4 linked regions of the Homo sapiens genome follow. The protein of the gene in region 4 purifies or fractionates together with the protein of the main gene of each other region. This does not show direct contact. Each region holds a gene or a part of one and is shown on either strand. Other genes may lie near its edges. The genes, in order: LEMD3, TENM3, PXMP2 and MME.

Evidence for each region.
Region 1: the proteins of MME (region 4) and LEMD3 purify together in Homo sapiens (affinity purification with mass spectrometry; 2 studies listed by BioGRID and IntAct, with this or other methods). This does not show direct contact.
Region 2: the proteins of MME (region 4) and TENM3 purify together in Homo sapiens (affinity purification with mass spectrometry; 2 studies listed by BioGRID and IntAct, with this or other methods). This does not show direct contact.
Region 3: the proteins of MME (region 4) and PXMP2 purify together in Homo sapiens (affinity purification with mass spectrometry; 2 studies listed by BioGRID and IntAct, with this or other methods). This does not show direct contact.

Annotation. Positions count from the first base shown.
Region 1 is NC_000012.12:65,235,574-65,242,608, reverse strand, and holds part of LEMD3 (inner nuclear membrane protein Man1), read right to left. Parts: intron 4,108-7,035; coding exon 4,028-4,107; intron 3,941-4,027; coding exon 3,795-3,940; intron 2,681-3,794; coding exon 2,579-2,680; intron 2,474-2,578; coding exon 2,371-2,473; intron 1,701-2,370; coding exon 1,522-1,700; intron 1-1,521.
Region 2 is NC_000004.12:182,799,391-182,803,548, reverse strand, and holds the end of TENM3 (teneurin-3), read right to left. Parts: intron 3,954-4,158; coding exon 3,198-3,953; 3' UTR 525-3,197; downstream 1-524.
Region 3 is NC_000012.12:132,690,563-132,697,597, reverse strand, and holds part of PXMP2 (peroxisomal membrane protein 2), read right to left. Parts: intron 1,715-7,035; coding exon 1,552-1,714; intron 1-1,551. UniProt on the Homo sapiens protein: Seems to be involved in pore-forming activity and may contribute to the unspecific permeability of the peroxisomal membrane.
Region 4 is NC_000003.12:155,083,296-155,090,330, reverse strand, and holds part of MME (neprilysin), read right to left. Parts: exon of another isoform or gene 6,289-7,035; intron 6,174-6,288; 5' UTR 6,164-6,173; coding exon 6,004-6,163; intron 5,273-6,003; coding exon 5,237-5,272; intron 498-5,236; coding exon of another isoform or gene 451-497; exon of another isoform or gene 1-450. UniProt on the Homo sapiens protein: Thermolysin-like specificity, but is almost confined on acting on polypeptides of up to 30 amino acids. Biologically important in the destruction of opioid peptides such as Met- and Leu-enkephalins by cleavage of a Gly-Phe bond.

The sequences.
Region 1 (7,035 bases), on a different chromosome or scaffold from region 4:
TTGAAAGGTTGGACAAAGAGGGATAAAGGAGAGATTAAGAATTATCCCTAAGTTTATGGCAGAATCAACTCAGGAAAGGTATCATTAACTAGACTAGGAACACTGAAGAGGATCAGGCTGGTGTACATGTTGAATCTGTGGTGCCCACCTCCTAGTACAGAAATATATAGTTGGGTACAAAAATCTGAAAACCAGACTTCATTCAAAATAAAAAATTTGGGAGTTATCCCAATATGGTAAATTAAGTCACAGCAAGACGATTATCTAGGGAGAAATGGCAGAGTGGGAAAAAAAAGATGGCCTTGAGAAACTCTAACACCTAGAGGTGAAGAAAAAGAGGATAATCTAGAAAAGGACTGAAGAAAAAGTCTGAGGTAGGAGAAAAAAAACAGAAGAAGGTGGCATCCCCAAATCCCAGTGAAGAAAGTTTCAAGGAGGGCTGAACTGTCAAACACTGTTAAGAGGTCAAGTAAAATAAGGAATTCTCTATTTTCAGTTTATAGGGAAACTGAAATGCATGCATCATTTAGAGGAAATAGTATAATCATTGGCAACATGAAAGCATCATTTTTTTAATTTAAGTTCTGGGATACATGTACAGGACATGCAGATTTGTTACATAGGTAAACGTGTGTCATAGTGGTTTGCTGCACCTATCAACTCAAACCCATCACCCAGGTATTAAGCCCTGCCTGCTTTAGCTGTTTACCCTGACAGAGCATCACTTTTATGCCATGTTTAAAGAAGCCTCTTATTCAAGCTTTTTCAAAGTGAAAATTAATTGGAGAATAAAAAAGGAGTGACTGGACTTTGTATTGCATGTCCAAAACAACTTACCTTTTCCACAAATACTATGTTTAGCAAATACTGACATACTTTTATAGGGAAAAAGTCATAATTTTCTGATGCATTGTTTTCTGCTTTTCTGTGTAGTAAAGGTTTGGGTACATATGACAGCCAATCTTCAAAACCCCCTATAAACTTACCCCTTTCTTATTTATACATGTTTTTGAAACTATGTAGGCATTAAGAAAAATATGGAAAGATACCCACAAAAGTTACTTGGCAGGAGGAATATATAAATAGAAAGGTCTTAGTAAGAGGAGGCAGGCAAAAACTGGAAAAAAAAGAGCAGTTAAAAAGTTATGACTTCACTTATATACATATATAGTTTATATATATTTTATTGTATATATAACATAAATTATGTGTCTTATTTACATAAAGAAATTAGATGAAAAGAATGCAGTTAATATATATAATACTAAGTTGCTTCATTAAGTGAAAAAGGCAAGATTCAAGGAATATTCATCTTTATTAAAGATAAACCATTTATGTTTGCATTAGCAAAGATAAAAGTGTGGAAGGATACATAAGAAGCTAACACTGATTCCTTCTACGAAACAGAACGAGAGAGTTTTGCCTTCATACATCTTTGAATTGTACTGTTTCACTTAACACATATTTGTCATTTTGAAAAATTAGAAGAAAATTACTTTTTTGATGTTTAAAAATACATACCTTGACCTTGCCATACTTTAGAAGGTATAACTAATATTTTGTCACAGGATGCAGAAGGCTGGATCCACCGCCAAACCAGAAAATCTGCACCACCTATTCTTCGTGTTTCCGTGCGAACTCTAGACTCATTAGCAGCAAGGAAGTCAACAGCTCTATCCCAGACTTTCTTCATTTTTTTCCTATCATGTGAACAAAATGGCAAATTTACTATCATCTTGGCTTGTCATCTTTTTGAAATATTAGTATCTGAGGTAATAGTTAACTCTAGCTGTTCTTACCACTACTCATGGAGTTTGTTCAAAGAAGATTTAGATGCCTATATCTCATCTCAGATTTTCTGAGTTTCAATTTCCAGAGCTAGAGCACAAACATCTGTATTTTTTTTCCCCAAAAGCTCCACTGGCTTTATGTGTTGCTAGGGTCAAGATGCTGCTTCAGGATATGGAATTATCTTTTATTTTCAAAAAGTTGCATTTTAGTTTTTACTTTAAAAGCTTCATTAATAATAAAGTTAGTACTTAAAAAACATTAGTAAAACACCAGCCACTGGCTGTCATCTATTTCTTTATCAAGATGAAATTAAAGGAAATAAGATGGAGACTAACAACAAAGAATCAAGAATGCCTAGGAATGAGAATGACTTAGAAATCCAGGTGTCACTCAAAATCAGGAGAATGGAAGAGAATTTAGAAAGAGAGTATAAAGTACAAAAACAAAGCAAAACCAAAAAAAACCTGTGCAGTAAGCAAGTCTAGTTGAGAAGGGTCACAGCTCTCAATATAATTTTCAATACTGCAGAAAGCACTTAAATTTTCTGATTTACTTGAACTCATAATGCTTTGAACACACCTGTCATGAGGCTGTATTAAGGAATCGCGTACATGTGGAATAGGCATGTAAGGTTGTAAATCTTTGTTTTCCTGGCAGGCTTCATTATGACTTCGTAAAACATCTAAAAATAAATAAAATTTACAAATGAATCAATCACTTGACATAATGTAGTTTAATCATGCAATGACTCTTCTAGAAATAGTTGAGATTCTTACAAATATCATACCTATAATCTTTACCACCATATCATACATCTGCCTTGTTTCCTCCTCTTCTTTTGTCCATCGATATTTCATGTAACGCAGAACGACACAAACCATCACTACACCTGTAATATTAATATACTTTGTATTTTAAAAATTGTGGTCAATATCATTCAATAATATTTCAGTGATTATTTTAACTGCCACAACGGAATGAACCTTCAAGACAGATGGCTGAATTAGCTATATAATTAAAACTACATAAAAAAATTTAATACTGAACATTTTCCAAAGATTCACTTTCTAGAAAAAAGCATTTCTTCCATTACACTGATAAGTGAACATTTAAATTCTAACTACTATTTAAAAATATATATATATAACTATGTTTCACAAACTTTTTTCCTTTGAAGCATAAAACGACTAGAAAAGTGAACCTCATGAGATTAAACATACTAAATCTTACTTTAAGTAAAATGAATTTTTCTTTTGTTGTTGTTGTTTTTGAGATAGGGTCTTACTCTGTCATCCAGGCTGGAGGGCAGTAGTGCAATCATGGCTAACTGCAGCCTCCAACTCCTGGGCTCAAGAAATCCTCCTACCTCAGCTTCCCAAGTAGCTGGGACTACAGGCACGTGCCACTATGCCTGTCTAATTTTAAAAATTTTTTTGTAGAGGTAGGGTCTATGCTTCCCAGGCTGGTCTTAAACTCCTGAGTGCAAGCAATCCTCCTGCCTCCCAAAGTGCTGGGATTACAGGTGTGAGCCACTAAAGCTGGCCAAAATGAATTATTTTTAAAGAAGAAAGAAAGAATGAAAAAACAACTCTCACCTAAATCCCTATTATCAATTAAAAAATGATAAAAATTTTAAATGTAGGTAAATTACATTTTAAAAACTAAATTTTAATAAACTTTATAACACTTTATTATTTAAAAATAAGCTCAATTTTTGTATTTTTCAATTCTACTTTCTAAAGTAGATTTCTATGTATATACTGACCACACTTGTTTTTCTGTGACAGTCTTATAACAAAGTTTTATTTCTACCTCTCCTTATATTACTGCTTTCTAAGCCTTTAGAATGATTCTGACATTATTTTTATTATATTTAGTGAAGACATCTAGCTGTGACTTATGTGGCAACCATCACAAAAATGAATTCTCAACTCTGGCATTTAGTGAAATACACACAAAAATTCAGGCTGCAATTTATCTCATTTCTTATCTTTACAACTTACCTAAGCATAACAACAATAATCTGTGAGTTACAGTAACAAAAGCACGTCGAAAACGACACCAAAAAGACATCAGTGGTCTTGTGGACTGTAAAAACTGCACATCAGTTATATTTGTCAATTCTTCCTCAGGGCCAAAACCAACACACCTATTTAAAAATAAGTAAGGTAGAATTTAAAGTCAAAAACCATTTCTCCCAGTACAGAATGGTCAAAGTGGAAATCAGATCCTTTACCTTATTCCAACATCTTTTCCATTTTCTAAGATCCACTGCAATGAAGTGTTAAATATACCTTCATATTCAGGACCTAAATCCTAACAAGAAAAATAGAGAAAAATAACTATTCTTAATCTACATTCGACTCTCTGTAAAGTATCCTTTATAACACACTCTATATAACATTTTTATTTTAACTACATAACATAAAATATTCATTACAGAAAATTTTAAAAAGAATGAGAAAAAAGAAAAAAAAAGTTAGCATTTTCCCACTACTCCAATATAATCAGTGTTAATATTTTGCTTTTTTATATTTTACATATTTGGGAACTGAGTCTCTCTCACTCAGGCTGGAGTGCAGTGGGACAATTTTGGCTCACTGCAGCCCCCGCCTCCTGGGTTCAAGCAATTCTCCTGCCTCAGCCTCCCAAGTAGTTGGGATTACAAGCATCAGCTACCAGGCCCAGCTAATTTTCTTTTTTCGTACTTTTAGAGAGACGAGGTTTCACCATGCTGGCCAGGCTGGACTTAAACTCCTGACCTCAAGTGATCCGCCAGCCTTGGACTCCCAAAGTGCTGGGATTACAGTCATGAGCCACTGCGCCTGGCTTGGAAGTTCTTTTTTTATCATTAGTTTATCAGTGCCATCATAAGAGTGAATTTACCACTTTTAAAAATGCAATATTATTTATAGATGAACAAATAAATGGCAAACTCTTCCAGATTTGGATGTTTCACAGACAAGTATTCTCAACACATAAAAGCAGTAAGCCTATCAACTAAAGAAAAACTGACCGGGTTACCAATTATAAGATTTGAGCATTCAAGTAAAAAGTAGAATTTTGAAAAACTAGCATTCATCTTTGTGACCTGGACAACTTCACAATACTTGAAGACCTTTCCAATGAGATTTGTGTGACATTAACAAATGCAGTTTTTTGATATGGAATAATGAAATGTGACCAATGCATCTGAAAATGACCAATGCATTTGAAAAATTCTGATTTTTATAAAAACCAATCACGCATAGGTAAAAGATCCATTCAAAGTACAAAATAAAAGGATTTTATGAGACAAGAGTACAAAAAGTTCACTGGCACAGTCTGACATTCCACATTGCAACTAACATTTAAGAAACTACTACTTATAGAGGTTTGGTATGGTATCAAAGAAAATATCTATCTACAATTACCTGAAAAGGCAACTAAAATACTTTCCAATGTTTTGACTACATATCAATGTGAGGCTGGATTTTCATGACATACTTCAACTAAAACATCATGACAGATTGAATAAAGAAGCAGATAAGAATCCAGTCACCTTTTATTAAGCTACACATTTAAGAGATTTATAAAATATATAACAATGCCACTGTTCTCATTGAATGTTTTCATTCTGGAAAAGTTATTTTTCATAAAAATACATTACGTTAACATATAATAGATTCATTTTTCTTATTCTAAATACATAAATTTTTTTCAGTTTTAATTTTTAATATAAACATGTATTTGTAATACATATTTACCATTAGAAAGTAAATATATCTTTCTAATAGAAACAAAAACATATAAATGTATATCTCCCACAAACAAAAGCCAGAGTCCTCAGTAATTATAGGGAACCAAAAAGCTTAAGAACTGCTATGTGTGGGTAGAGTATTTTTAAATTAAAATAGTAAAAATAAATGTGGTATCATATTACACATACTACTGTTCTACTTGTTTTCTTCATGGAACAAAATATTGTGTCAATGTCAGTTTACATGGAAAAAACCCTATTTTTTTCAACAAAATAGTATTCCATTGTATGATTATTCTATACTTTTAATCAACACCTTATTAATGAACATTTAGAATATGTCCAATTTTTAAAAATTTATCAAATATAATACTGTTATAAACACCTTTACCATGTGCCAAGTACTATTTTAGAAACTAGAGGTGCAGCATAAACAACACAGTGAAAAATTCCCTGTGTTCATGGAGCTTGTATTATTAGTATGTCTTTATGTCCCTTTTGAGCAAAAAATGAATTTTTTTTTTTTTTGAGACAGAGTCTTGCTCTGTCACCCAGGCTGGAGTGCAGTGGTGCGAACTCGCCTCACTGCAACCTCCATCTCCAGGGCTCAAGCACAGTCTTGTGCCTCAGCCTCCCAAGTAACTGTGATACTACAGGCGTGTGCCACCACACCCAGCTAATCACTGTATTTTTAGTAGTAGTAGAGATGGGGTTTCGCCATGTTGGCCAGGCTGGTGTCGAACTGCTGGCCTCAAGTGATCCGCCTGCCTTGGCCTCCCAAAGTGCTAGGATTACAGGCATGAGCCACTGTGCCTGGCTCGTAGAGGAAAAAATGAATTTCTAAAAACAGAAATAAAAAGTCATTTCAAATTCTCTCTAAAAAAAAGATTTTTCTAAGAAGTGTCCTATTGTATTTTATCAACAGATTCTTCAACAGCATTGGAAATTATAAGGTTTTCATTTGATCAGTATAGTTTACTTCCTAATATAAAACTGGTAAGTTATTCTAATGTATCAAATTTGCAAATGTAATAAAAAGTTTTATAAAGCAGAACTAATCTTGTTAGGCATCATTACATGAAACTACTATTAGGATTTTTAAGATGGTGAAGATAACTATAGGCCATCTGTTTTTTTAAGCTTGGGTGTTTATTATAGCATTTACAAACATCAAAAAAATTGCAGACAATGTATTTAATGATTGAAAAAAGGTTTATATATGAGATCATTTCAATGGATATTATGAACTTAGAAATAATCATGATGAGAGCTAAACAGCTATCTGCTTAAAAAAATAAAACTACAACATTTAATTTATATATACAGTCATACCTCAGTATTCACAGAGGATTGGTTCCAGGATGCCCCATGGATACCAAAATCCACAGATGTTCAAGTCCCTGATATAAAATTGCATAGTATTTGCATATAACCTATGCACATCATTCTTTATACTTTAAATCATTTCTAGATTACTTATAACACCTAATATAAATGAATATAGA
Region 2 (4,158 bases), on a different chromosome or scaffold from region 4:
TGAGGTTGTCACTAGAAAGCAAGTGTGATGAAGTCTGCCTCTTCCGACTAAAATCAAAGCCCTGGCCTGCCGGCCAGAATTGCTGAACTAAGCATCTTCTAATCAGCCGGTCTATATGTAGATTTAGACATCTCCAGGAGGCTGCAAGCCTACCAGGCCCAAACTGATTATTCTAATCAAGTGTTTTAATTAAGCACACTTATTGCCAGGATCACAGGAATGAGGCCTGCTCTCAAGTAGTAATGGGTGGTATTTTTGTAAACTCTTCTTTACAGTTAGCGTGTTTGGCTTTGTGGGGGTGTGTTTACTGTTTTTCTAAAGTAGGCCATGGGAGAGTCCCCTGTGAAGTTCACTCTGCTGAGCCAGCAGTCTGGCCAATGGACAAAAAAAAAAAAAAAAAAGATACTACCAACTGGGTTGCAGATGAATCAATTCCCCAACAACTGCATCTATTTGCGTCCTCCACGTTAAACACAAAAGCAATGCTGGCTAGCCCAAGACTTGAAAAAATATAAAAACACACACACATTGGGTTGGCTTTTATTGGAATGCCTAGGTGCAATCTATAGTCATCAAGTTATGGAAAATTCAGGTCACATATAAAGTTAAGAAGGCAAATGAAAAGAACAATACAAATCAGACAAAATTTACATCTCAAAATATCATGAAAGCATTTTGACTGGCTTTGCCTAAAATACTTTGAATATCAATTTCTTTTTTGTAAGCTAATTCTTTTCATTATACAGTCCCCCACCCCCTCCCAACTCTTAGAAAAAGGTCTTTTGTTTACATATTCCCCAAGGTCACTATTTCTTGTAAAAGCATGTCCAGATCACAAGTCTTTTTAGAAAGAAATAGGCTCATTATACCTACTAACAGGACACTAATTGGGTTGATTTGACTTCATCATCTAAAATAAGCACCAGGAGATACTCCAAATCTGTTATTTATCGGTGCCCGAGTGAAGACCAGTCCACGTCAAGAAGAGGTTAAGACTATGATCTCACTTCTGTCATGTGGCACAAGCTTTTCATGGTAATACATCAGAAACATGTCTGAGAATTTAGACTCAGAGCCTATTTCACCCAAAAGTACTTACAGCATGCTAAATACAGGCCTGCAGAAGTTCCACGGAACAGAACTGCAAATACCTAACAGTTAAAAAATAAAATGGAAAACAGAATCATGTTTATGTGGTTTGAAATCTCATAGTTTTCTAAATTTGGGCTTCATAATACTTGCCAAAGGATTTCCAGAATAAAAAATATTAATGCTAATCTGTGCTTTCATTCTAATAAAATATCATCAGCATTCATTAGAAGATTAATTACTTCGGTATGCTCTACCAAATACACAAAGACAGTAATAGCACTGATACTGTAAATTCAGTAGCTATTTTGAAACTTTCCCAGCCAATCATCTGTTTAATAAACACGCCTACTGTGCAATTTAGAGTATGTGATACATACAAAGCAGTTAGAAAATTATTTTCAATACATCACTTGAACCTTTATATTTACGACATGTTCACTTGCTATATTTTATCACCATTATACATAGAGGAAAACAGTGTGTACTATAGCTCGATGAACTGAGAAATATCTTCTAAAAATATTTTCGTGGCTGAATTTAGTGCTCAGGAAAGAGATTTGTCAGAGCTGAGCCGACACGGAAGTGCAGATGGCGGCTGGGCTCGTTCCCACACGCGTGCATGCATGTGTGCAGGAGGGCGCGGCTGTCAGTTCACTTCCAGCTGGATCTGCCACCCCCGGCTTCCCCGAGACAGAGCAGAGGCTGTCATTCAAACCAGCCCCCCAAGATGGTTTGGTCATGTGGGCTTAGAGTAACCCTGACCGGCTCCATCTGGCTCACCCACCACTGCTCGGTTTCTGCTGTCTTTCCTAGATCTTAAGACACGTGTTTAGGATCACGACTACATCAGAACCTTTCCTCCTCCTATTTCCCCAGCATCTGATGTGGTCTCTCCTCCATCAAGAGACAGAGCTTTGGAACAGTAACAGTAAAAACCTCGGGGTTAATTATATCAACAACTCCCCATTGACTTGCAAGGTTGAGAGAGGGCCAGAGAACCCTTCCTCCCGTTTTTTCAATCTTCTTCCCTTACATTCCACCAGCCCTAGTTGTCTACTGTGCCTCTCAGTTGACAATGCTGAGGACACTGGCCTGATGCGTGAGAGAGGGAAGAGAAAGGAGCTCTCTGATTCGCCACCCACCTAGAATTGCACGGTCCTATCCATCTAGTGATAGAAGCTTGCACATTTTTTCAACCTAATACAAAAATATTAACACTTCTGGACATTATAGGCATAAGTTGTTATATCTCTACAATATAATAATTCATACTGTACAGCTATAACAGATAACAAAAGGTGCAATCCTTTTAAAAAAATCACACAGTTCACGTTTTTATCATTTTATTTTTAAGTATAAATTTTTAAACACTTTACATAAATTAACTCCTCTGAGACTAAGATTTGATGTACAGTAAATTGTAATTCATATAAAAATCCATAAACAACTTGTCTCACATAATTTACAAAAAAATCAGGATTTCCTTTGCTTATCAGTGACAAGGATTCTAGTTGCCAGTTTTTTCCCCGAAGGGAAACCACGTTAGCATTGTAAAATCCATTAATAAATCCCCGCCGCAGAAGTCACTGTGCCAATGTCCTTCTACAAAGCTGCACAGGGAAAGCAGTTGGGTTGTCTAGAAACAGTAACTTTGCCCCACATTGTAAAATGAACAGAGATAGCTATCACATCCTATGCAGACAGACTACTTCTTGTAAGCAAAGGTCGACAATTCGGGACTATTTGGAAACACTGTACACATTTTTTTTTCTTTTTTAAAGTTAGTTAAATACAGTGCCTAGAAGGAACAGACGGCCCAGCGCAACAGGTCGAGGCCTTTGTCCTTGATGATTTTTTTTTCCTCTGGCTACGTTCAGTCCGACTGAGTGCAGCGCTATGCATATGTAAACATATTCGTTAAAGCCGATCACCTTTAAGGTCATTCGGAAAAAAGCGGTCCTTGTTTTCGCGGTGTGGGTGTGGGTCGTAACAGCAGTCTCATTCCCCCGGGAGGAAGGCTCTTGGGCGTTGGAGAGTCCCACTCGGGTTGTGCCACAGGACAATGTGGGCAGGGCGTGAGCGGCTCGGCGGGCGCGGCCCGGGCGTTACCTCCTGCCGATCTCGCTCTGCCGCAGGAACTGGATGTTGTTGGCGCTGTCGGCCAGCTCGGGGTACTGCTCCACCGAGAGTACGTAGTACCCGTCGTAGCCCTGCACCTTGCCGGCGCTCAGCAGCTGCCGCTTCTCGCCCTCCGTCCAGAGGCGCGCGCCCTCCTCGCCGTCGCGCACGCGCTGCTGCTCGCGCGCCCAGGCCCGGGCGAGCGCGCGCTGCCGCGCCTGCTCCAGGATGCGCGCCTTCTCCTCGTCCAGGGTCATGCCGTAGCGCACGTGCAGCGCCAGCGCGCCGAACTGCATCTCCACGTCCGCGAACCTGCGCGTCCTGCCGTTCACCACCGTGGTGGACTGCGACACCGTCACGTTGATGCCGTTCTCCAGCGCCTTGCGGCCGCTGGTCAACCGCAGCGTGCCCAGGTCGCTCTCGGGCGTGGTGGTCTTGATGAAGTAGTGCGTGTCCTTGCCCTCGATGGTGAAGTGCAGGTTCTCCAGGTAGAAGGCGTTGTTGAGCACGGCCGCCACCTTGATGCAGTCCTCGTTGGCGATGTTGAGCACGTTGGTCTGCACGCGGCCCTGGCTGACGGCCAGCATGACGCCCTTGCCGATCAGCGACTTGACCGTGGCGAACCACAGCCAGGACTGCGCGCCGCCGGCCCGGCGCCGGCTCACCTGCACCTCGGCCATCTTCCCCAGCGACAGGAAGGCCTTGGCCTGCCGCGCCACTTGCTGCTGGACTCCGAAGATGGGCTGCGGGCGAAACAAAAGAGGGGGCGCGTCAGAGGCGGCCGGGAGCCTCCCCACTCCTGACCCACACACGGGACTCTGGGGGCAGCGCCGGGGCATGCATGGAAGCCCCGGGGTCCTTCCCTGACCAGAAGGCTGACAGCCCGGGTGGAGGGAGCACTCGAGATCCCTCCCCCTCAAGGTGATCCCGATGCTCTGGAACCCCCAA
Region 3 (7,035 bases), on a different chromosome or scaffold from region 4:
CATCTCTACTAAAAATACAAAAATAAGCTGGGTGTGGTAGCGGGCTCCTGTAATCCCAGCTACTCAGGAGGCTGAGGCAGGAGAATCGTTTGAACCCGGGAGGCAGAGGTTGCAGTGAGCTGAAATCGCACCACTGCACTCCAGCCTGGGCAACAGGGCGAGATTCTGCCTCAAAAATAAAAAATAAATAAATAAATAAATAAAATAGGACTACAAAGGAACCAATAATACTGAAATACAGTTATCAAAATATTCAGAAAAAATTTTGACAGACTAATGTGTTTATTTATTTATTTATTTATTTTTGTCTTTTGAACCAGTGTCTTGCTCTGTTACCCAGGCTGGAGTGCAGTGGTGTGATCTCTGCTCACTGCAGCCTCCACATCTTGGGCTCAAGGGATCTTCTCACCTCAGCCTCCCAAACAGCTGGAACTACAGGTGCACATCACCACACTGGCTCATTTTTTACTTTTTGAGAGATGGGTATTCGCCATGTTGCCCAGGCTGGTCCCGAACTCCTGGCCTCAAGCTATCCACTGGCCTTGGCCTCACAAAGTGCTGGGATTACAGGTGTGCACCATCATGCCCGGCCCTGTTTCTTTTTTCTTTTTTCTTTTTTTTTTGAGGCAGAGTCTTGCTCTGTTGCCCAGACTGGAGTGCAGTGGCACAATCTCAGCTCACCACAACCTCCACCTCCCGGCTTCAAGCGATTCTCCTGCCTCAGCCTCCCGAGTAGCTGGGATTACAAGCACGCACCACCATACCTGGCTAATTTGTTTTGTTTTGTTTTTTGTTTTTGAGACGGAGTCTGGCTCTATTACCCAGGCTAGAGTGCAGTGGCGACATCTCGGCTCACGGCAAGCTCCACCTCCCGGGTTCACGCCATTCTCCTGCCTCAGCCTCCCAAGTAGCTGGGACTACAGGCGACTGCCACTGTGCCCAGCTAAATTTTTTGTATTTTTAGTAGAGACGAGGTTTCACCATGTTGGCCAGGCTGGTCTCGAACTCCTGACCTCAGGTGATCCACCCGCCTCGCCCTCCCAAAGTGCTGGGATTACAGGTGTGAGCCACTGTGCCCGGCCTGTTTCTTTCTTTACACAGTGACAAGACCTCTAATGGCAGGTCCAAGTAGTAATGAGCATAAATTATATTTCGAGATATCTGTAACAACTGATGTGATATAAAAATATCTGATTAGCTGGGTGTGGTGGCACGCACATGTGGTCCCAGCTACTTGGGAGGCTGAGGCAAGAGGATCGCTTGAACCCAGGAGTTTGAGGTTTGCAGTGAGCTATGATTGTGCTACTGCACTGCAGCCTGGGTGACAGAGTGAAACCCTGTCTTTAAATAAATAAATAAATAAAGTGACTCTACTGGGTACAAACAGGTCCTGCCAATACTAGATGTTTGCTTCCTATATTCATAAAAGAAAATGCAAAATTTCAATTTGAGTGAAAAATCTGCAGACCCTCTGAATTCTGCCGAGAATGTCAGGTGAAGAATCCCTGTGCTAAACGAAGAGCTGCAGTAAGTGCTGTGGCAGACACCCACCTCCAGAAAGTTCATGATGAGGAAGAACAACATGAGGAAGGCCGGTGCAAAGACGAGGCGGTCCAGGAGAAGCCTCCTGAGCCCTGCCAGGGGGACCTCAGGAGGGATCCAATGTTCCATGAAGAAGTAGAAGAAGTGACTCAGCGGCCCTGTGAAGAAGAACCTGAGGCCCCCAGGGGGTGTGAGCCAGATTGTGGTTCTCTGGATGTGCTCTTCTCTGGTCTAGCTTCACCCCCAAATCCCAGGTCCTAACCCCTGCTTCCTGATGTCCCTCAGTATTGGCCACACAGGTCTGTACAGATAAGTCGGCTTCAGGGGCGCTCTGTCTCTGTTGCTCTAACAGACCAGACTTGCTCCTGCCGTTGACTCTCTGCTCCCAGCGCGTCCCCGCCTAGCTATGTTGGCTCGCTCCTCCTCACACTGTCAGCTTCCAGGTCGTCCCAGCACGTGTGCACGCCTGTGCTAACACTCTTGGCCCTGGTTCATTTTCTGCCTAGCACTGTCCTTATCTCATATGTTAGGTTAGTCTGTGCCTCTCGTCCCCCCTAGAAGGCAGGCTCCACAAGGGAGGCTACGTCTTCTGTCCACTGCAGTGCCCAGAACAGGGCCAGGCTTCGAGAAGCACTCAATAATGAATCATCAGACATGTCCCTGGTTGTGGAGCTTTTCATTAAACTCACTAGGCTAACTGGCAAGGGAACTCACTAGGTTAACTGGCAAGGGCACTCACTAGGCTAACAAACTGGCAAGGGAACTCACTAGGCTAACTAACTGGCAAGGGCACTCACTAGGCTAACTGGCAAGGGCACTCACTAACTGGCAAGGGCACTAACTGGCTAAGGGAGCTCACTAACTAACTGTCAAGGGCGCTCACTAACTAACTGTCAAGGGCGCTCACTAACTAACTGGCTAAGGGAGCTCATTAACTAACTGGCAAGGGAGCTCTCTAACTAACTGGCTAAGGGAGCTCACTAACTAACTGGCAAGGGCACTCACTAACTAACTGGCTAAGGGAGCTCACTAACTAACTGGCTAAGGGAGCTCACTAACTAACTGGCTAAGGGAGCTCACTAACTAACTGGCAAGGGAGCTCACTAACTAACTGGCTAAGGGAGCTCACTAACTGACTGGCAAGGGCGCTCACTAACTGACTGGCAAGGGCGCTCACTAACTAACTGGCTAAGGGAGCTCACTAACTGGCTAAGGGAGCTAACTAACTGGCTAAGGGCGCTCACTAACTAACTGGCAAGGGCGCTCACTAACTAACTGGCAAGGGCACTCACTAACTGACTAAGGGAGCTCACTAACTAACTGGCAAGGGAGCTCACTAACTGGCAAGGGAGCTCACTAACTGGCTAAGGGAGCTCACTAACTAACTGGCTAAGGGAGCTCACTAACTAACTGGCAAGGGAGCTCTCTAACTAGCTAAGGGAGCTCACTAACTGGCTAAGGGAGCTCACTAACTAACTGGCAAGGGCGCTCACTAACTAACTGGCAAGGGCGCTCACTATCTAACTGGCTAAGGGCGCTCACTTAACTAACTGGCAAGGGCGCTCACTAACTAACTGGCTAAGGGAGCTCACTAACTGGCTAAGGGAGCTCACTAACTAACTGGCTAAGGGAGCTCACTAACTGGCAAGGGCGCTCACTAACTAACTGGCAAGGGCGCTCACTAACTGGCAAGGGCGCTCACTAACTGGCAAGGGCGCTCACTAACTAACTGACTAAGGGAGCTCACTAACTAACTGGCAAGGGAGCTCACTAACTAACTGGCAAGGGAGCTCACTAACTGGCTAAGGGAGCTCACTAACTAACTGGCTAAGGGAGCTCACTAACTAACTGGCAAGGGAGCTCTCTAACTAGCTAAGGGAGCTCACTAACTGGCTAAGGGAGCTCACTAACTAACTGGCAAGGGCGCTCACTAACTAACTGGCAAGGGCGCTCACTAACTGGCTAAGGGCGCTCACTATCTAACTGGCTAAGGGCGCTCACTTAACTAACTGGCAAGGGCGCTCACTAACTAACTGGCTAAGGGAGCTCACTAACTAACTGGCAAGGGAGCTCACTAACTGGCTAAGGGAGCTCACTAACTAACTGGCAAGGGCGCTCACTAACTAACTGGCAAGGGCGCTCACTAACTGGCTAAGGGCGCTCACTATCTAACTGGCTAAGGGAGCTCACTAACTAACTGGCAAGGGAGCTCACTAACTAACTGGCAAGGGAGCTCACTAACTAACTGGCTAAGGGAGCTAACTAACTAACTGGCAAGGGCGCTCACTAACTAACTGGCTAAGGGAGCTCACTAACTAACTGGCAAGGGAGCTCACTAACTAACTGGCTAAGGGAGCTCACTAACTAACTGGCAAGGGCGCTCACTAACTAACTGGCAAGGGCGCTCACTAACTGGCAAGGGCGCTCACTGACTGGCAAGGGCGCTCACTAACTAACTGGCAAGGGCGCTCACTAACTGGCAAGGGCGCTCACTAACTAACTGACTAAGGGAGCTCACTAACTAACTGGCAAGGGAGCTCACTAACTAACTGGCAAGGGAGCTCACTAACTGGCTAAGGGAGCTCACTAACTAACTGGCTAAGGGAGCTCACTAACTAACTGGCAAGGGAGCTCACTAACTAACTAAGGGAGCTCACTAACTGGCTAAGGGAGCTCACTAACTAACTGGCAAGGGTGCTCACTAACTAACTGGCAAGGGCGCTCACTAACTAACTGGCTAAGGGCGCTCACTATCTAACTGGCTAAGGGCGCTCACTTAACTAACTGGCAAGGGCACTCACTAACTGGCAAGGGAGCTCACTAACTGGCTAAGGGAGCTCACTAACTAACTGGCTAAGGGAGCTCACTAACTAACTGGCAAGGGAGCTCACTAACTAACTAAGGGAGCTCACTAACTGGCTAAGGGAGCTCACTAACTAACTGGCAAGGGTGCTCACTAACTAACTGGCAAGGGCGCTCACTAACTAACTGGCTAAGGGCGCTCACTATCTAACTGGCTAAGGGCGCTCACTTAACTAACTGGCAAGGGCGCTCACTAACTGGCAAGGGAGCTCACTAACTGGCTAAGGGAGCTCACTAACTAACTGGCAAGGGCGCTCACTAACTGGCAAGGGCGCTCACTAACTAACTGACTAAGGGAGCTCACTAACTAACTGGCAAGGGAGCTCACTAACTAACTGGCAAGGGAGCTCACTAACTGGCTAAGGGAGCTCACTAACTAACTGGCTAAGGGAGCTCACTAACTAACTGGCAAGGGAGCTCTCTAACTAGCTAAGGGAGCTCACTAACTGGCTAAGGGAGCTCACTAACTAACTGGCAAGGGTGCTCACTAACTAACTGGCAAGGGCGCTCACTAACTAACTGGCTAAGGGCGCTCACTAACTAACTGGCTAAGGGCGCTCACTATCTAACTGGCTAAGGGCGCTCACTTAACTAACTGGCAAGGGCGCTCACTAACTAACTGGCAAGGGTGCTCACTAACTAACTGGCAAGGGCGCTCACTAACTAACTGGCAAGGGAGCTCACTAACTAACTGGCTAAGGGAGCTCACTAATTAACTGGCAAGGGAGCTCACTAACTAACTGGCTAAGGGCGCTCACTAACTAACTGGCTAAGGGAGCTCACTAATTAACTGGCTAAGGGAGCTCACTAACTAACTGGCAAGGGAGCTCACTAACTAACTGGCTAAGGGCGCTCACTAACTAACTGGCTAAGGGAGCTCACTAATTAACTGGCAAGGGAGCTCACTAACTAACTGGCTAAGGGAGCTCACTAACTAACTGGCTCAGGGAGCTCACTAACTAACTGGCTAAGGGCGCTCACTAACTAACTGGCTAAGGGAGCTCACTAACTAACTGGCTAAGGGAGCTCACTAACTGGCAAGGGAGCTCACTAACTAACTGGCTAAGGGAGCTCACTAACTAACTGGCAAGGGCGCTCACTAACTAACTGGCTCAGGGAGCTCACTACCTAACTGGCTCAGGGAGCTCACTAACTGGCAAGGGAGCTCACTAACTAACTGGCAAGGGTGCTCACTAACTAACTGGCAAGGGAGCTCACTAACTAACTGGCAAGGGCAGGACCTGGTGCAGCACTCTAGGTTGTGTGCGTTGCTACTAATCATTCCCCTGTGTGTTTGGGAGAGAATGGAACCAGCTGCCACATCTACTGGGACAAGAGGCCTGCAGTTCCATAAAATTCAGCAACAAAAAGAGGGGTCTTTCAACTTGTGACGTTGACAGTCTTTAGATAAGTGGTTCTCAGTGTTTTTTCCCACCCAGTCATAGGGGGTTATGTGGCCTATGCAGGGATTCTCAGTGGGGAAGGGGACTGAAGTCCTGTGGATGGGAAAACTGTACTTGGATGAGGCCTGCTAGGTGATCTCATCACCTGCCCCTCTTGGGGGGATTACTGCTTTAAATACAGTATGGAAAAATCCATGATGACTCAAGTTAGCAAGCTTGGAAGTATAAAAATGATCTTCAGGAATTCTGAATTAAAGAAAACATCACTGTAGTTGGAAAATACTTCACATTACTGTTGGCCGAGAGCTCACGGTGGATTAAATTGGTAAAACTCTTGAATTACTGTGCTTTTGCAACTCAGAAAGTGGTTCAGAAACTGGACATTTTTCAGGGTACCGAAGCATTTATTTTCTGGATGTTTACACTATGAAAATAACAATAGAGGCCAGGCACTGTGGCTCGCGCCTGTAATCCCAGCACTTTGGGAGGCCAAGGTGGGCGGATCACGAGGTCAGGAGATCCAGACCATCCTGTGAATGGTGAAACCCCGTCTCTACTAAAAATACAAAAAATTAGCCGGGCGTGGTGGCAGGTGCCTGTAGTCCCAGCTACTCGGGAGACTGAGTCGGGAGAATGGCGTGAACCCAGGAGGCAGAGCTTGCAGTAAGCCAAGATCGCGCCACCGCACTCCAGTCTGGGCAGCAGAGTGAGATTCCGTCTCAAAAAAAAAAAAAAAAAATTAAAATAACAATAGAAACTAACTGGTCAAATTGGAGTCAGTTTTCCCTTTCCATGAGCCCAGTCTAGGACGCTTTCAGGGTTTTTGAATCCTGAAGTCTGACTTTAGGTTAAGTTGAGTTACTTGTCCTCAGGTTTGCCTCTCAGCCCAATTAAGACAGTCACCCCTACCCATCCAATTAAAAAGAAACATGATAAAACCACAAATGTGAGCCTGTACTCCTAGCACTGTAATCCCAGCACTTTGGGAGGCCAAGGAAGGTGGATCACTTGAGGTCAGGAGTTCAAGACCAGCCTGGCCAACATGGTGAAACCCCATCTCTACTAAAAATAACAAAAATTAGCTGGGCATGGCGGTGTGTGCCTGTAATCCCAGCTATTTGAGAGGCTGAGGCAGGAGAATCACTTGAACCAGAGAGGCAGAGGTTGCAGTAAGCCTGGGTGACAGAGTGAGACTCTGTCTCCAAAAAAAAAGAAAAAACAAAAAAAA
Region 4 (7,035 bases):
GTGCATTATCTCACCATGATGAAAATATCTTTCAAGTAACAGAATGCCACCTCTCCTTGTATTAATAATTAAGTAATCATCAAAAGTTTTCTTGGTATGTGCAGAATTAAAATAAAAGGAGTGGACAGTTCTGAGAGGTGTTTCATCCAGGTCTTGATGTTCCACAAGCCTGTCTGTCAAGGCTGCCATCGACAAATATGCAGTGTACAACCTGCATGACTATACAGGTGGAGGTGGTCCCACTTTCTCTTGTAAACTGTATTGATCACGTCTTAGCTTGGCTTCTCTGGCCTCTGGATAATTTAGGACCACACTTCTAACATATGCTTCTGCAGACCCCTCAATTCTCTGTTGTCTTTTTCTTTTTTTTGGAGATAGAGTCTTGCGCTGTCTTCCAGGCTGGAGTGCAGTCGTGCAATCTTGGCTCGCTTCAACCTCTGCCTCCTGGGTTCAAGCAATTCTCCTCCCTCTGGGATTATAGGCGCGTGCTACCATGCCTGGATTTTTGTATTTTTAGCAGAGATGGGGTTTCACCATGTAGGCCAGGCTGGTCTTCAACTCCCGACCTCAAGTGATCCACCCGCCTTGGCCTCCCAAAGTGCTGGGATTACAGGCATGTTGCCATATAAGGCAACATATTCAGAGGCTCTGGGAATTGGGTGTGAATATCTTTGAGAGGCCATTATCCTGCCTACCGTTAAGAGGGAAGCATTGATAACATCTTGAGACCGTTTAAACCAGTGGTACCCAGTCATAAGTGACCGTGCTGCCTGCAGGGGACATTTAGTAATGGCTAGAGACATTTTTTGGTTGTCACAACTAGGAGAGGACTGCTACTGGACATCTAGTTGGTAGAGGCCAGGGATGCTACTAAATATCCTATAATACACAGAATAGCATCCACAACGAAGAATTATCTAGCACAAAAATATCAATAGTGATTGAGTTGAGAAACCCTGATTTAAAGCACAAGATTCCTTGAAATCTAAGTTAGGGAGGTTACAATGCAATGGAAATCAGTTTCAGGATTCAGACTTACACGGAAAAGTCTGCAAAATCACATACAAGTTTTATAACTCTAAGTTTTTGATGACCTTATAGGGTAAATAAGCGATGAATAATACTTTGAAGCATTTTGATCCCTGCCTTAAGTTGTTATTTCTTAAGTGGTATTTGTTTTACTTTAGGTCTGGTGTAATCTTTCATACTGATGCATTACACATATAGGCAAGTTAATTTAAAGTATACATAAACATCATTTTATGTACATCATAAATATTTAAATCCTAGATGCTCAGATTTTAAATATGTAACACCAAACAGATTTGAAACAGCCTTCTGCAATATTTTACTTCTGTCTTGGTATGGCTTGACTTCTGTATTCCTTGACTTCAAAGAATCAAAGATAAGTACATTTGCTATGACATTCCCTTCCACTGGAAGAAAGGTTCAAGTTGGGGCCATCTTTCATATAATGTAAGCACCCTGAGTGTCAATACTTGCTTTTCCCATTCTCAAGAATTTCTGAGCTCAGGTTTGAACCCACCCACTCTCTTAAAGTGACCTATAGACTTGCTGGTAAGATATTTTATATTTTTTCAACATCTCTCTTTTCATATTTCTTTCTTTTCTTTTTTTTTTTTTTTTGAGATGGAGTTTCAGTCTTGTTGCCCAGGCTGTAGTGCAATGGCGCAATCTCAGCTCACTGCAACCTCCACCTCCTGGGTTCAAGCAATTCTCCTGCCTCAGCCTCCTGAGTAGCTGGAATTACAGGCATGCGCCACCACACCCGGCTAATTTTGTATTTTTAGTAGAGATGGGTTTTCTCCATGTTGGTCAGGCTGGTCTTGAACTCTCGACCTCAGGTGATCTGCCCGCCTCAGCCTCCCAAAGTGCTGGGATTACAGGCGTGAGCCACCGTGCCCAGCCTTCTCTTTTCACATTTCTTTTTCTTTCCATCTACTCTACTCTGGCCACTCTTCTTTAATACTTGCTTTTGTCCAAGATTTCCTCTAGGGTTTTCCTAATTTGCAACAACTTCTAAAAGAAATAGTTGTATTTTTCTGTGGCAGAAAAGATTTCCTAACCAGCAGAAGACTGTGTGTGTGTGTGTGTGTGCGCGCACGAGTGTGTGTGTTTATGAGTATGCAGAGTGTATCCATGAGGGTGTGTGTCATCTTATTTATTCTCCTAGGAAGAATAGTAACTACCAATGTGAACAAGTATTCTAATGGCTTGTGAACCAACAGAGCAGAATGAAGAAAAATATACAGCTATACAGCAACCTTGTTTACCACTGAAGTTATTTCTATTGTATACATTTCTCTGCCAAGATACATCCTGCAAGGTGTTTTACATTTGGTTTGATTTCTAAGCTACAATTAAAGGATACAGGTTAAATACATTTTAGTGAGTTGAGACTTGCCAAACACTATTTAAAAATCCTATCTCTAAACATTAAGTCACATTTAAGATTCCAGATTCTGAATGTCACATTGCTCCTTGGGAGGAAAAACCTGCCTAGATCTCTGAGGCAAAATCACTTGTCGTTTATAGAAATACACCTACCTAGTCAAAAAATCCAGTTTCTTCGAAAATAAAATTCAAGGAAAAGAAGAGAAAAAGGAAAAATAGTGAGAGAAGAGAGAATCTATAGATTAAGATACCAAAGAGACATGTCAAGTGTATTAAAGACAGAGGAATTAACCCTTAGTAGTCAATATGTAAGTGGAAGTTTCCCGAAACAGGACAGCCTGAGCATATAATAGGGTAGCTGGTAGAGAGAGGAAGCATAGGAGGATCTGGGGAGGAAGTAAACGTTAACTTTGACAACTTGGGCACATGCTGACTTTTGCACATGACCACGGAGATCCCCCAGCCAAGGTACCTGTGCAGCCATTTCCCTGGGGAATAAAGAAACTTCGTTTTTGGGAAAAACTTACTATGTCGAGCAGCAAATGGCTAACATCTAAATCAAGTCTCCCTCACGCTCCCCACATCACATCTCAGGGTGTCTAGTCATTGCTCTTGTGACCCAGAGCAAAAAAATCCATCAAAAAACGATACAAAAAAAAAAAAAAACCAAAGGGCACAGATTCAGGATATTAGACTATAACCTAGAATTGCCAGATATTTTCCCGTCATTTTTTTGCAAAGTTCAGTGAATAACAAAAATCCAAGTAAAGAATATCCAAGACTGGGTGCAGTGGCTCATGCCTGTAATCCCAGCACTTTGGGAAGACAAGTAGGAGGACTGCTTGATCTCAGGAGTTCAAGACCAAGCTTGGGCAACATAGTGAGACCCTGTCTCTACAAAAAAAAAAAACAAAAAAAAACAAAAAAAACAAAAAACCCACAACCTAGCCAGGAATGGTGGCAGGTGCCTATAGTCCCAGCTACTCAGGAGGCTCAGGCAGGAGGATGCCTTGAGCCCAGGAGATCAAGGCTGCAGTAAGCTGTGATCACAATACTGCACTCCAGCCTGGGTGACAGAGCAAGATCCTGCCTCAAATAAATAAATAAATAAAATTAAAAATATCCAGCAGAAAATGGTTAAAATTATTTGGAACAGTTTATTTATTTCTTATAAGACACATAGATGTTAGAAAGGAGGTTTAGAATCTCTTGTTAAAGGACACAAATATTGTGTTCATATCCCAGGTGCTGCCCTCAGCTACCACCTTCCTTTTTCTTGAAGAAAGAAGAAATACTCCCATTTTCACCACACTCCAATTGATGGGATTTATATAGCTTCATACACTTCTCTGTTTTCTGCTCTGACTTATTTTTCTTCTCTTCTAATCATTGATGTTGTTTAGCCCTTGAACCTCTTCTTAAGTTTAGCCCTTGAACCTCTTCTCTTCTTTTGAGAACTCAAATACTTCCAAGGCTTCCACTATCACTCCTAAACTGACAGATCTCAAATCCAAATTCCAGCTTCTTAAACCTCATCTCTACCTTCCTCCTGTCTATTTTCATCTTAGACCAAACACATCCACATCCACCTCATAACCTCTCTATTTCTGTGTGGGCTGCCTCCATTCTCTTTAGTCCCTTGGGTTTTAAAACTTGGCATCATTCTCAATTCATTCATTTTATTTAGCAAGTCAGTTCTACTGAGTCACCCAATTCTCCCTCCCCATTATCTCAATAGTACTCTTCTCTCACCACAGGCCAACCTCTTCAGCTTACACTTGGAGTACAGAAGCAGCCCCCACCTGCCTGCCCTCCTTTTCACTCAATCCAGTCAACCTCACATTCGCAGAATCATCTTTCACCTTTGGCCTGATCACTCCTCTGTTCAAAAATATCTGTTTCTCCTGTATTACAATATCAAGGCTAAACATGGATTTCAAGGTTCTCCATAATGTGTCCTTCTATCAAGCGTACACTTTTACTACTTCTCAATAACATAGTTTCTTTCTTTTGTGTTTGGAATTCCCTCTTCTGCACCGCCACATCTAAATTCTAGCCCTGCTTCAAGGTTCTTCCCAAATTTAAGGCTGGGTGCGGTGGCTCACGCCTGTAATCCCAGCACTTTGTGAGGCCGAGGGGGGCAGATCACCTGAGGGCAGGAGTTCGAAACCAGCCTGATCAATATGGTGAAACCCCGTCTCTACCAAAAATACAGAATTAGCCAGGCGTGGTGGTGGGTACCTGTAGTCCCAGCTACTTGGGAGGCTGAGGCAGGAGAATTGCTAGAACCCGGGAGGCGGAGATTGCAGTCAGCCGAGATCACGCCACTGCACTCCAGCTTGGGCGACAGAGCGAGACTCTGTCTCAAAATATAAAAAATAAAAAAAATAAATAAAATGAAATTTCTTCCCAGATTTTAACTTCTCCACCTAGATTTACATGCCTACATCTCACTCCCTTCTTCTCACCCACCTAGTGAGGTGCACTGAGACATTTAACACAATGATACGAAACTTACCATTTCATATGTGTTCATTTTCTTTCTTCAACTACATGGCAAGCTCCATACAAATAGCGATATAGTTTTCTATTGCCCTGCTATACAGCCCAGGGCTGAAAATAGTAATATATTTTTCAGAGTAAACAAGTTAATTAATCTACTACTTAAATATATTTTTATTTCCATTGATTATAGAGCCAGACACATAAATAATTGATCTACAATGAATAAAAGTGTAAACAAAGCAAATTAAGATTAGCATTTAATTTTAAATATTATACATCAGTTGTATAACTATTACACGTAAAAACCATTTCTTACCTGATTTTATGCAGTCTGATGACTTGCAAATACCATCTAGAAAAAGGAGAGAATATACATAAATATTGGCAACACAAATTTTTAAATTTCTATTTTTCTTTTGTTCTTTTAAAAACTGCCAATTAAATAAGCAATTTCTTAAAGCAAGAACTAAAAACTGAACATTATATATCATTGTCAGTGGTTAGAAAAAATATAAGAAAATAAAATAAGTAAAATCTAAATTTAAAATTTTGATTATGAAGAAAAATGTGTTATTATATCTTCTCTACCAACGAAGCCCCAGGCCTATTAAATTGAAATAATCAGTTGTTTTTGCTTGGTAATCATTTTTTTAACCATTAAACAATCAATCTTTTTTCATCCTTGTTGTAAAAAACTTCCAAGACTCAAATTAAATTTGTTAAATTCCTGTGAAGCCGTTTAGAATTTCAATGACACAACAAAAGTTGACTAATGACTATTACTAAAGCTGGCCATAAAATTGTGTATATTTTAATCAAATAAAACCATACTTTAGATTCCTCATAAGTAAGCGTGAGCGCACTAAATATACTTGCAATTAATAACTTAGCTCAAACATAAAAGGCACCGTACTTCAAAGTTAATTATTTTGACATATTGATGTTACATTTTATAAATGAATCTCTTTGTCAGTCTTTAAGTGCCTCTATCCTTAACACATTCGTTGGATAGATGGTAAAAGCATGGAGGAAGATTTCCTTCTCTTTTGCACTTATGGATGCACAGGTGTGGGAGTAACTCACCATCGTAGGTTGCATAGAGTGCGATCATTGTCACAGCTATGATGGTGAGGAGCAGGACAAGGACCGAGAGGCTGATCTCCAGTGGAGTCCATCGCTGTTTCTTCTTTGGCTTTGGAGTGTTGATATCAGTTATATCCATCTGACTTTCTGACTTGCCCATCACCTAAAATCTGCAAAAAATGAAAATACTAATAATGAAAAACAAATAAATAAAAAAGAAAATGTCCAAATGCTTAATGTGGCTGGATAAAAGTAAAAGGCTCAGTTATTTTAAAATAGAAATACATTTTTGCTGTTGAGAAGTCAAAATTTTGTTGCTGAATGCAAAGTATATAGAGCCAAATGAATTTGACAGGTCTCAGTCACAACCTTTTGTTTTTTGTTGCTGTTGTTTTGTTTTGTTTTGCTTTGGTATATCACTGAAAATCTCAGCAAAATTAGACAGTAAGACTTGGTTAAATACTCAAGTAGGATTAATTCAGCAGTTTATAAGCAAATAATTGCTGTACCATCATTAAGAAAGTTTTAAACTCACCCTTTTGAACTCTGGACTAACATCAATGGTTAATTTTATATCTTGCTCCAGTGGCTTCCTTTATAAGCTCAAAAACCAGTGACTAATACCTTGAGGTTTTGACTAAGCAATAATTTGAAATATTAATATAGATAAACAGCAAAACGAATGAACACATGAAGTAGTTTATTTTAGTCATAAAAACAACCTTTATTTTTACAGTTCAAAATTACTACTACTACTGATACCAGTATCTATTAACTGGTTAGACAACATTCTGAAAATGGTCACTCACTGTACCAAAAGATACCTGAATATCCAACCTAACCACGCCCAATCCCATTTAAGAGGGGAGTAAGGGGGATAAGTAAACAAAATAGTACAAAAAGTTACCAAGTTGATACTTGTAGTCCTGTATAAAGCAGGGTATGCAAAAACATACCTGTATTCCTAAAATCTTTCACCTCAACTGGAGATGTGTTAAAAACTTTAAACCAAAAAGTGGACACTGCCACAGA